2 separate regions of the Homo sapiens genome follow, and region 2 is linked to region 1. The links come from fine-mapping of genetic effects on gene expression. A gene starts in region 1. The other region holds a variant in brackets. All regions are shown on one strand. Distances are between the middles of the regions.

Evidence for each region. PIP is the estimated chance that this variant, and not a neighbour inherited with it, causes the effect.
Region 2: its variant is fine-mapped to the expression of REPIN1 in whole blood (TOPMed, PIP 0.92).

Annotation. Positions count from the first base shown.
Region 1 is chr7:150,366,103-150,371,468 of GRCh38, forward strand. It overlaps REPIN1 (replication initiator 1), which reads left to right and starts at 2,720. Exons shown (of 3, transcript NM_001099695.2): 1 at 2,720-2,839; 2 at 3,569-3,766; 3 at 5,126-5,366. The coding sequence starts at 3,610. It overlaps REPIN1-AS1 (REPIN1 antisense RNA 1), which reads right to left. Exons shown (of 4, transcript NR_183429.1): 2 at 4,976-5,053; 3 at 4,603-4,754. RefSeq lists enhancers at 2,194-2,253, 2,293-3,097, 3,098-3,903, 3,904-4,708 and silencers at 2,504-2,973, 3,484-3,633.
Region 2 is chr7:150,326,441-150,331,806 of GRCh38, forward strand. All of the region lies in intron 2 of LRRC61 (leucine rich repeat containing 61), which reads left to right. It also overlaps the pseudogene ZBED10P. Among named protein-coding and RNA genes, the nearest start is that of ACTR3C, 5.6 kb to the left of the region's middle. The variant C/T (reference allele first, on the strand shown) is at 2,903.

The sequences.
Region 1 (5,366 bases):
GGAGGGGGGCCCAGGTTTCTGAAGAGCAACTCAGGGACATATATTAAGATGTTATCTTTAGTTTCTATAGGGAACCAAACATTTTGTGACTGTAACTTCCTTGTTTTAAGCTACAGTTACCTTCTTGTTTATTAGGTTGCTAGCTGGGTGCCTGGAATTTCCCTTGAAGGAATTCAAGATTTTCCTTTATTTCCATGCTTGCCCCCTCCCCACTTCCTGCAGGCCTGTAAGAGGGGTGCCGGCTCCATGTCAGTTTGGAAGAATAAATGAAGTGATTCTAGCCAAGAAGTTATGAAGAATAAAAAAACCCAGAATCTTTGTGTAGGGGAAGTACTTAAACTACCAGCTACCAAAACTTATTTTCTGTGATAAAACTGCAGACATTCAATGTAGTTTTAGGTTGCGGGTAGCCTCTCTAAACATAACTCTAAAGGCAGAAACCATAAAGGAAGACTGCTAAGTTTTGGCACATTAAAACAAAACTTTCTCGCCGGGCACGGTGGCTCATGCCTGTAATCCCAGCACTTTGGGAGGCCAAGGCGGGCAGATCACGAGGTCAGGGGATCGAGACCATCCTGGCTAACACAGTGAAACCCCGTCTCTACTAAAAATACAAAAAAATAGCTGGGCGTGGTGGCGGGCACTTGTAGTCCCAGCTGCTCGGGAGGCTGAGGCAGGAGAATGGCGAGAACCTATGAGACGGAGCTTGCAGTGAACCGAGATCACACCTCCCTCTACACTCCAGCCTGGGAGACAAGCCAGACTCCATCTCAAAATAAATAAATAAATAAATAAATAAATAAATAAATAAATAATAAAATAAAAATAAAACAAAACTTTCTTATGCTCGCTTCAGCAGCACATAGACTAAAGCAAAACTTTCTCACATCAACAACTGAAAAGGTAGGCCGGATGCAGTGGTTCACATCTGTAATCCCAACACTTTGGGAGGCTGGGGCGGGAGGATCGTTTGAGACCAGCCTGGGCAACACAGTGAGACCCCATCTCTACAGAAGAAAAACATTAAAATAAAATAATTAGCTGGATGTGGTGATGTGATCCTGTAGTCCCAGCTACTCAGAGGCCGAGGTGGGAGGATTGCTTGAGCTCAGGAAGTCCTGGCTTCAGTGAGCCATGATAGTGCTACTGCACTCCAGCTCTGGTGACAGAGTGAAACCCTGTCTCAAAAAAAAAAAAAAAAAAAGTTAACAAGTACGAGGAAACACGTCTGCAACAAACATGACAAGTCTTTAATACCTGTACTTTATGAGTGCCCCCCAAACAATAAACCAACTCCCCAACTTTTAAAATGGGCAAATAGAAAAGTGGGCAAATGGACATAAACAAATTCACAAGAGAAAATAAAACTGGCAAAAAATAACCATGTGAAAAAACAATCCAGCTAACTAGTACTCTAAGAAATGCAAGTACAAAAGATGAGAAATAACCATTTCAAACTAAATTTTTTTTTTAAAAAAGTCTGTGTTGTCAAGTATATGGAAAATGGGCATTTCTCAGGGAAAACTAATACGTTTTCCTGGAAGATAATTTAGAAAACATTTAAAAAATATATTCCTTTTATACAGCCATAAATAATCATGTTTAAAAGAATATCTAATAAAATGGAAGAAAATTCACAAGATCGTGTTAAGTGAAGAAGGCAGAATACATCTTCGCAAGGCATTATTCCAATTATGCCAGACATGCCATGGATATACGTAGAGAAAACACCGGAGGCAACATACCAAAATATTAAATGTAATTGACTCTACGAGGTAAAACTGAGTTTTATGTTCCCCTATTTCCTATTTATGCAATAGATTTAAAAAGTATTTTTACGACTAATTATACAATTCAAAAATTGCCTGTGTTGAAAAGCATGAAAGTACATGAAATTGTACTACCCTGGAAACCCCAGGAAGTGTTTAGTTTGGAAAGCCAGGGCCACCTGCTAGTGGGTGAGTCATGGGCACAGGCTCGCACCTGCCACCGCAGACGCCACACAGGCTGCTGAGCCTTTCCAAGCGAAATGCCCCACGTGCGCCAACGGCCACCTCGGCCGTCGCCCCACGCTTGGCCCGCAGCCAGAGGAAGCCCAGCAACTTCTGCTCTTTCTTAATTTCTAGAAAAGAGTGAAGAGAGGCCTTTTCAAAGTTCGCAGGATCGGGCCTTTTTGTGCTCCACTTTGGAACAAATCGGAAGCTAGGGCCTTCCAGGTGCGCCACCGCCGTCCCGGGACCGCCGCGGCCGCAAGCGTCCGCACTGCGGCCGGGGTGCGCGGCCTGAGAAAGGCCCGGGCAACGACGCTCCGGGGGCTTGCCGGAGCCCTCTTTGAAGTCTCCCGACGGGCTCCCAGCCTCTCATAAGGCAGCTAAGGCCGAACACCCCGGTGACCATAGGCCAGCCACGCGGTCGCCCGGGGACGCGCGTGCTCCGCAGGGACAAAGGGTCGGGAAACTTGAGCTCCGGCCAGTCCCAGAGAAACCCGGGCTGGTGGTCGCCATGGCAACGGAGTCCGACCCTCCGAGGCCTGCCGCCCTGGCGCGGCAGTGGCTTGAGTGACCCGGCCCGCTCTTGGCGGGGGCGCCCGCGCCCCGGCCCCGGCAGTCCCTCCCCGCCCCCAGGCCGCGGCCGCGGGAGCCGGCGACTGACCCTCGGCAGCTCCTGTAGTCACGTGGCGCTGGGAACCCGGCGGGGGGAGGTTGGGGACGGGCCTGGCAGTTGTGAACTCGAACCTGCCGCTGTCGCCGCGGCGGGGCGGGGAGCGAGAGTGGGCCGCGGAGGCCGGCCTTCGGGCTCCATGGACGGGCGCCGCGTCCCTGCACAGCCCGCCGCAGAGGTACGGCCGGGGCAGGGGCGCGGGGCCACCGCGGGCCCGCGGGGGGCCGCTCCACCTGCGGGGCGCGTGACCGTGAGTGTGCGCGACCGTGTGTGAGTGCGCGGGGGGGGACGCTGCTGGATCTGCGGGGGTGGGGGAGCGCACCTGCGCACAGGCTCCGCGAGCTGCGCCGTGCGTGGGACCCGAAATGGCTCACTCGCAAGAACGGGACCCGTGTGCCCGGGAGCGTGGACGGAGGACACGCATCAGTACAAAAGGGCGGTGTGGGGCTTCTGCCACCCGCGGCCAGCCGCGATGCGGAAGGGGATTCTGACGGAGTCGTGGTCACACCAGCTGGCCCTGCGCAGCCCCATGGGAAATAGGCCTGGAATTCCTGTCGGGAGGAGGCTGGGGGAAGGGGAGCCAGCAGGGATTCCAGAGTTCCTGCCATAGGCCGGCCTTTGGCCATCAGGGAAAGCCCAGACTCTGGCCACAGAATGGAGAATTCGTTCCGTGACCTTACCAGGGAAGAAAGTGACCCCGAAAGACAGCAGTGTGCTTCCTTGTTGAAGGGGCACATTCATTTATTAATCCAATGTCCATTAAGGTCACTCTGCCAGGCAGGATGTGGGGCTTATGGCTGGTGCGTGTGGCTTTGTGGGGGGAGGGGTTGTGGCTGGTGAGGACACAAAGCTGACTGCCCTAGAGGAGCTCAGAGCCTCACTTCTGTTTTCTCTTCCCTCCCCACAGGTAAGGCTGGCCTCTCTGCAGTCAGAGGTCTGAGCTCTGCCATGGGGATAGGGGTGTCTTTATTACTGCAGTTTTCTCTAACACCTGGGGGCTACCGGAGTGTGGGCCGAAGCAGGCGCTGCAGCCGCGGAAGTATCCCCAGGAACATCCCCAAGAGGAGCTGGAAAAAGCCTCATCCCCAGCTCTGCAGTCTCCAGGGTAGAGTCTGGCCTTTGCTGTGCTCCCAAACCACGCCACAACAGGGGTGCACGGGCGTCCCCATCCCGGCGGAAGGAAATGGCCCTTTCTCATATCCTGGGGTCTTCCCTGTGCACAGTCTGACACTGGGAATGAGTGACCTTTGTGTTCCCTGAGAAGAGAGAGTGCGCTCTAGGGAATTTAGAAGGATGTGTCTGGAGCTTGTGAGCAGGCACAGAAGGGCCCTTAGGAGCCTAACTGCTTCCTTCCTCCTTCCGCGGAGGAGGCTCCTGTGCAGGAATCTGGGCTCCCCTGAGCTGTGGAAGAGCTGAACATGGGGCAGCCCCTGGCGAGGTTGGGGCAGGACCGGGCAGGGGACTGAGATTGCAGTCTCATCTTCCCTCCCCTTCTATTGCCCCAGTAATCTCCAGCACCCCGAGGGAGGCAGAGCCGGTGATCAGGCCCCGAGGGCAGCAGGCTGTGGGTGTTCCTTGGATTCAGGGAGAGCCTTCCTTCCTGCAATGTCCTAATTTGTGTGGGTGGAAGAGGGCAGGCGGGCAGAATGGGGGCACAGTCTGGGCAGGCGGTGGTCTGGCGTTAGACTGCCGGGAGTAGCACCCAGGGCTCTGCTCCTGTTCCCCGAGAAGGGCTGTTCTCACTTGTCCTCCAGCCTCCTACGGAGACTGCAGTTAGTGATGCTGAAAGTGCCTCCCCTGTGGGGCTAGGAATGAAAAGCTATAGACACCTTTTTCTCTGAGATCTTTGCAAACCCAGGCGCTTTAGAGGAAAGAACACTGGCCTGGGAGTTTAAAGACCTGTTCCCTAGTCTTGATTCTGCTGTTGGCTTACTGTGTCACCTTGGGCAGGTCTCGTCATCTTTGATGTCTCACAGTTGCTTCATCTGTTAAACAGGGAGCTCAGTGTCTGTTTGTCCAGCTTCTCAGAGTTGCTGTGCAGCTCGGATGTGGCATAGGAAACAGCAGACACAGGGAGAGGGCAGCATAAGGCACTGTAGGGAGCAGTGGCCACATTTTCTGGTGAGTCCTGTGGCAGGAATGTTTGTGCATTCAGCACTGGAGCATTTACTCCCTGTCTGACACTGGGGTAGCTGCCATGAGGGGGATTCTAGTATCAGAGTCCCTCCCTTCTGGAAGTTTCCAGGGCAACAAAGACATAAGACAAACATCCTTGAAATGTTATCTAAAAACCCAAGATTGAAATAATACATACCACACAAGGAAACAGGAGAGTAGTCTAGCTCCATGTCCGGGGCTCTAGGGGTTCATAGATGGCAGCTCCTGTCCGGGGCTGAGGTTGGGAGGGGAGAAACAGGGGCAGAGTGAGTTGGTCTCTGGAGTGACTGTGCTTTTCCACCCTCAGCAGAGGAAGAACCGATGCTGGAACGTCGTTGCAGGGGCCCCCTGGCCATGGGCCTGGCCCAGCCCCGACTCCTTTCTGGGCCCTCCCAGGAGTCACCCCAGACCCTGGGGAAGGAGTCCCGCGGGCTGAGGCAACAAGGCACGTCAGTGGCCCAGTCTGGTGCCCAAGCCCCAGGCAGGGCCCATCGCTGTGCCCACTGTCGAAGGCACTTCCCTGGCTGGGTGGCTCTGTGGCTTCACAC
Region 2 (5,366 bases), 40 kb before region 1:
GGGAGGCTGAGGCAGGGGGATTGCTTGATCCCAGGAGTTCAAGACCAGCTTGGGCAACATGGTGAAATCCCGTCTCTACAGAAAACACAAAAATTAGCTGGGTGTGGTGGTGCACATCTGAAGTCCCAGCTACTTGGGAGGCTGAGTTTGGGAGGATTACTTGAGCCCAGGAGGCAGAGGTTGCAACAAGGTAGATCATGCCACTGTACTCCAGCCTGGGTGACAGAGCAAGACCCAGTCTGAAAAAAAAAAAAAAAAAATACTTTGGAGGGTGACCCCGTTCTGCAGATGGCCTCTGGAGGCCTGGATGTTCACACTCTGGGGTTGCAGTTTCCTCAATCATGAAGTGAGAGTTAAGTCCCCTCCAGTGTGACATCCAAGAGCAGTTGTGGGCCCAGGACAGCAGCCTGTGTTTCCTTTGCAGCTTTACCTAGCCCCTACACAAGCGCCACCTTGCAGTAGGCCTTCAGTTCTTGGATTTATTGGTGGCTGAAAGTTCTTGCGAGATGGACTTGAAGTTGTTGCCACTTAACCCTTCTGAGGTTCTTCTGGCTGGGAGGAGCTCCTCTTTCTGGCCAGAGTCTTGCTTGAGCCTTCTTAGCCATCTCGTCACCTGTTATAGGCAGCCCTGCCATCTCTGGTGACCCTTTTTAAACATTACCCTGGTGAGTAATGTTTAGCATCACTCATTGTCAGATCTTTTTTATCTTTTTTTTTTTTTGAGTTTCAGTACCAGTAAGTCTTTATGTATTCATTATATCTTTCCAGGGAAAGGAGAAGGGAAGTGAAAAGGGTCAGCATGTGTGTTGCAAAGTGATTAGAAAATGGGAAAGGAAGTACCTGGTACAGAAAAATCAGCCATCCAATAGATGCACCCCAGAGATGGAGTAACCAAAGCCCAAGGGGCCCTGGTCTCCTGCAGTTCAGGACTGAGGGGCAGGGATCAGGGAAGGTACAAGCCTTTCTACCCTCCCTCCCTGCCCCTAAATTCAAGATTTCACATAAAGCTTTGGTTTCTAGCAGTAAACATGGGGTTACATTCATCTGTCTCCTTTTAAACAATCTTGTAGCCACTTTGACATAAGTTCTTGCACCGGGCCGGGCGTGGTGACTCACACCTGTAATCCCAGCACTTTAGGAGGTCAAGGAAGGAAGATTGCTTGAGCCCAGGAGTTGGAGTCCAGCCTGGGCAACATAGTGAGACCTTGTCTCTACAAAAAAATTAAAAGAATTAGTCAGGTGTGTTGGTGTACACCTGTAGTTCCAGCTACTTGGGAGCTGAGGTGGGAGGATCGCTTAAGCCTGGGAGGTTGAGGCTGCAGTGAGCCAAGATTGTACCACTCCACTACAGTCTGGGCGACAGAGCAAGACCTTGTCTCAAAAAAAAAAAAAAAAAGTTTCTTGCACTTGCGTAAAAGTTCCTAAGTGACTTAGATATATACTCATATTCCTTTGCCTGGTCTCCTGACCCCACTTCTACGTGGAAGGCCCCCGGTTGCTTCTCCCTTCTTTGAGATTACAGATTAAGTAGGTTTGATCCATCCCAATAAAGCAGTGTCTTAAGTGTTTGGGGTGAACCACATTGACTCAGGTTTGGAACAAGAGATGGAGGGTTCCTGACTTCTTCAGGCTGTTCTCATACATCATTTAAGAGTTGCAGAGACAGCCTGAGAATTCAATATATGCGTGTGTGGGTATGTAGGTTTTCTTTTGGGGTAGGTGAATGGAGAAGAAGGTACGGTAGAAGTCAAGTTTTTAGGGCAGAAGATCTGGTCCAAAATAGGAAATAGAGGAAGGGGAACACAAAGAAAGGATAGTTCAAAATCCCTACTTCAATATGGGGGTCCCCCAAACTCATGTTTTACATCCTTTTTGCCTGGTTCAGAACTTTCTGTAAAGATGCTTTGGCCATTTTTCTCTCAATACAAAAAAGTTTGTAAACAATAAAACCCCAAAAAAACATGGAGAAAGACCAACACAGTATAGTTACACAAACTAGGCCACCTAGCAGTCACCAACTGCTACAAAGTCCAGACAGATACAGGAACTAGAGGGGGCAGCGTCAGGGGGAAACAAACCCAGGATCAGATGTGCACCCCTGAACACGTTCTATCGTGCTTGTCCCATTCTAGCCCAGCAAGGGAGGTTTGTGGTGATCCTATAGCGTGTAAATGAAGCCCCCTTTTCTCCTTAGTTACCGTGATGCTGAATCAGCGCTGCAGCAGGGCAGGACGCTGGCTGTGCACACCACATGAAGAGGCCCTCTCTTACGGGGCTCCCTTGAACCCAAGAATTTGGAAACGTTAAGAATTTTAGTTCTTGCTTCATATATCCTTCCCTGGACAGCACAGGATGGGTACAGGGGCACTGGTCTTAAAATTTAGCGTTCCCAAGTCACGTCTTTTACGAATACACACGCATACCCTCTGTTGTGGATGGTAGGCCTAGCACAGTCCAGTGAAGGACGGACCTGGTGTGTGAAGCAAGTCCCATGCCCTAGGATTAGGAAACCCTCACCTAACCGTGGTGTCCCTTGGTGTCTCTGCACCTTAGTCTAATTTTCAATCTTCCACTAGCCAGAGATCAAGTCTTGATGCTATCCAGTTGAAACCTAGTCTCCCGTGAAACATTTTCAAGGTCGGGGGGTTTCAGGAGGACACTGTGGCAGAAAAGCCAAGTCTCTGGCAAACATGAGGTAGTTCAATAGGCTGGGTCCTCCATATAGTTGCTCTTCGTGGTTAGAAAAACAACCAGAAGTATTCCTGCTATGCAGGCCTGGAGCTTCTGCCGACTTATCCCTGAGGTTGCTCAGTACCTGAGAAGAGTAAAGAGTGAGGGACCGAGATTAAAGTAGACAACAGCACAAACAACATTAAGGGGAATAAAAGCTAAGATGCACGGA[C/T]GTATCGGTGACACAGCTAGTGCTGTGGGCACCCGGGAGACGGGGGACCGAGGTACGGTATCCAAGGGAGCGAATCAGTCCCATCGCACTGGCCTGGAGCTGGGTGGGGTGAGTGTGGGAGCCGCAGGTCTGCAGCGGTCCCCCAGCCACACTCTCTGCCTGTCTCCGCCACCCATTGCTTGGGACACTTCCCAGCACCCTGTCCCAAGAGTGGGCTGTGAGGAAACAAGATGTGAGTAAAGCCTGGCCTGCCCATGAGGAATTTCCTCCCTCAGAAGGTAGTGGCTGTGGGTTGGGTCCGTCATCTGGCCTCATGCTTAATCATTTCACTCCAGCATGGGAAATATTATGATTACCTGTCCTTCTTAAAAAGGAAAACAACTTCCCTGTCCAGGCCACTTTTGAAAGCTGGAGATTCTAGGGGTAGTGCCTCAGACAAAGCATGTAGGCTCCTGAGTGATTTCCCCCAGCTGCCCTCGTTTGCATTTGGATAGAGCTTGGTTGGAGTTCCAAGGGCTGATGCTGGGAACCTTGCTCTGGATGCGAGGCCTGCCCCTGGAGGGAGCCGCGGAGGACTGGCAGCTGCAGATGCTGGAGCAGGCCAGCCTGTGGCTGGGCCGTAGCTTCCTGCTGGCAGGCTTCCTGGTATCGAGCAGCTGCCCCAGCCTGGAGCAGGCGGCCAAGGGTGAGGGCTGTTCCCCCATCCCTTGTTTCGCCCACTGCCTCGACTCCCTGGTGAGAAACTTTCTGTGTCACCCTCACAGTGTCCAGATCATCCTGGGCACTGCCAGGGCCACCTGCAGCCATTTCTAAGGCTCTGTGGAGGCCCAGGGACTCCTCACCCAGCTCCAGCGCCAGCGCAGCCTCCTAGCCCACCAGCCCTTTGAGGAGCTCTTGGACCACTGGGTCTCGGCCTACCACCTGCTGGAGTGGCTGGTGGAGCAGCAGCAGCCCCTTCAAGAGTACAAGGGCAGGCACCAGCTGGGGAAGGCTGGTGTTGCCTTGTCGGCCACATTCTGGAGCCCGGCAGACAGCCTCAGCAAGCTCCTGTAGCCCTTCCAGATGGTGGTCCGCGAGGCGAGTGCGGCACAGGCCTCTCTGAGCCAGGTGCTGCCCCAGCTGCGCTACCTGCACATCTTCCTGGAGCAGGTTCACACACACTTTCAGGAGCAGAGTGTCGGGGAGAGGGGCGCAGCCATCCAGCTGGCTGAGGGGTTGGCCCGGCAGCTCTGCACCGACTGTCAGCTCAACAAGCTCTTCTACCGCGAGGAGTTTGTGCTGGCCACCTTGCTGGACCCTTGCTTCAAGGGGAAGATTGAGGCCATCCTGCCATGGGGGCCGACCGACATTGACCACTGGAAGCAAGTCCTCGTGTACAAGGTGAAGGAGATTAGAGTGTCTGAATACTCTTTGAACTCCCCAAGTCCCCTGCAAAGCCCCAGGGGTCTGTGCGTGGACCCCACCAGGGTAGCCAAGAGCTCCGGGGTGGAGGGGAGAAGCCAGGGGGAGCCTCTGCAGAGCAGCAGCCACTCTGGGGCCTTCCTGCTGGCCCAGAGGGAGAAGGGCTTGCTGGAGAGCATGGGGCTGCTGGCCTCTGAGAGAAGCGGGGGCTCGCTGTCCACCAAGAGCCACTGGGCCAGCATCATTGTCAAGAAGTATCTGTGGGAGAATGAGACCGTTGGAGCCCAGGATGACCCCCTGGCTTACTGGGAGAAGAAGCGAGAAGCCTGGCCACCATCTATCTGTCTTACCCCCCACAGGAGCCTTCTCTGAAAGCATCTTTGCCTCCCTGAACAGCCCCACCCTTGTAGAGCAAAACTCTTCTCTCAAGGTGGAAGCCATTGAGCATCTCCTCTTCTTGAAGGCCAACCTGGAGCAGTTCCCCAACTACACCCCGCCTCCCCTCATCTGCTCTAGTGGTGACCTGGCCAAGGGGATACAGACCCTGCAGTCCGCTCAGGGTGGGATGGCAGACATGGCAGGTGCCGGTGCTCACCCTGCCCGTGAACTCCTAGAGAGCCCCTGCCTGTAATAGGTCAAAGCAGAGAGCTGGGTGTTGCATCCTGGGCGCCACATGCTCATGGCCAGAATCTTAAACCTATTTGGTAGGAAAGGGTCAGTTTCTCACTTGACAGATTGCCATATTTTTTTTTCTGGGAGATGTCATTTTCCATCTCCCGATTACTTCCTTTACGTCTAGCAGTATGTGCCGAGAAGAGGCTTACTCTCTTCGTAGGTGACTGTGAATTTTGTACTACGTGGCTTTGTACATGTGATGCTCTGTTAAAACATAAGTGGGTATGAAGGTCCTTGCATACACCTTGTCTGTGTGGATAAGTGGACACATGCCCTTAAGAGGCTTGCTTTCTCAAAAAGTGGCCAAGGATGTGGAGTGGGCATGTGCTGGCAGGTGGGATATGTCCTCAGCCTTTGGGGGCCTGGATAAGCTATTGCAGCACTTTCT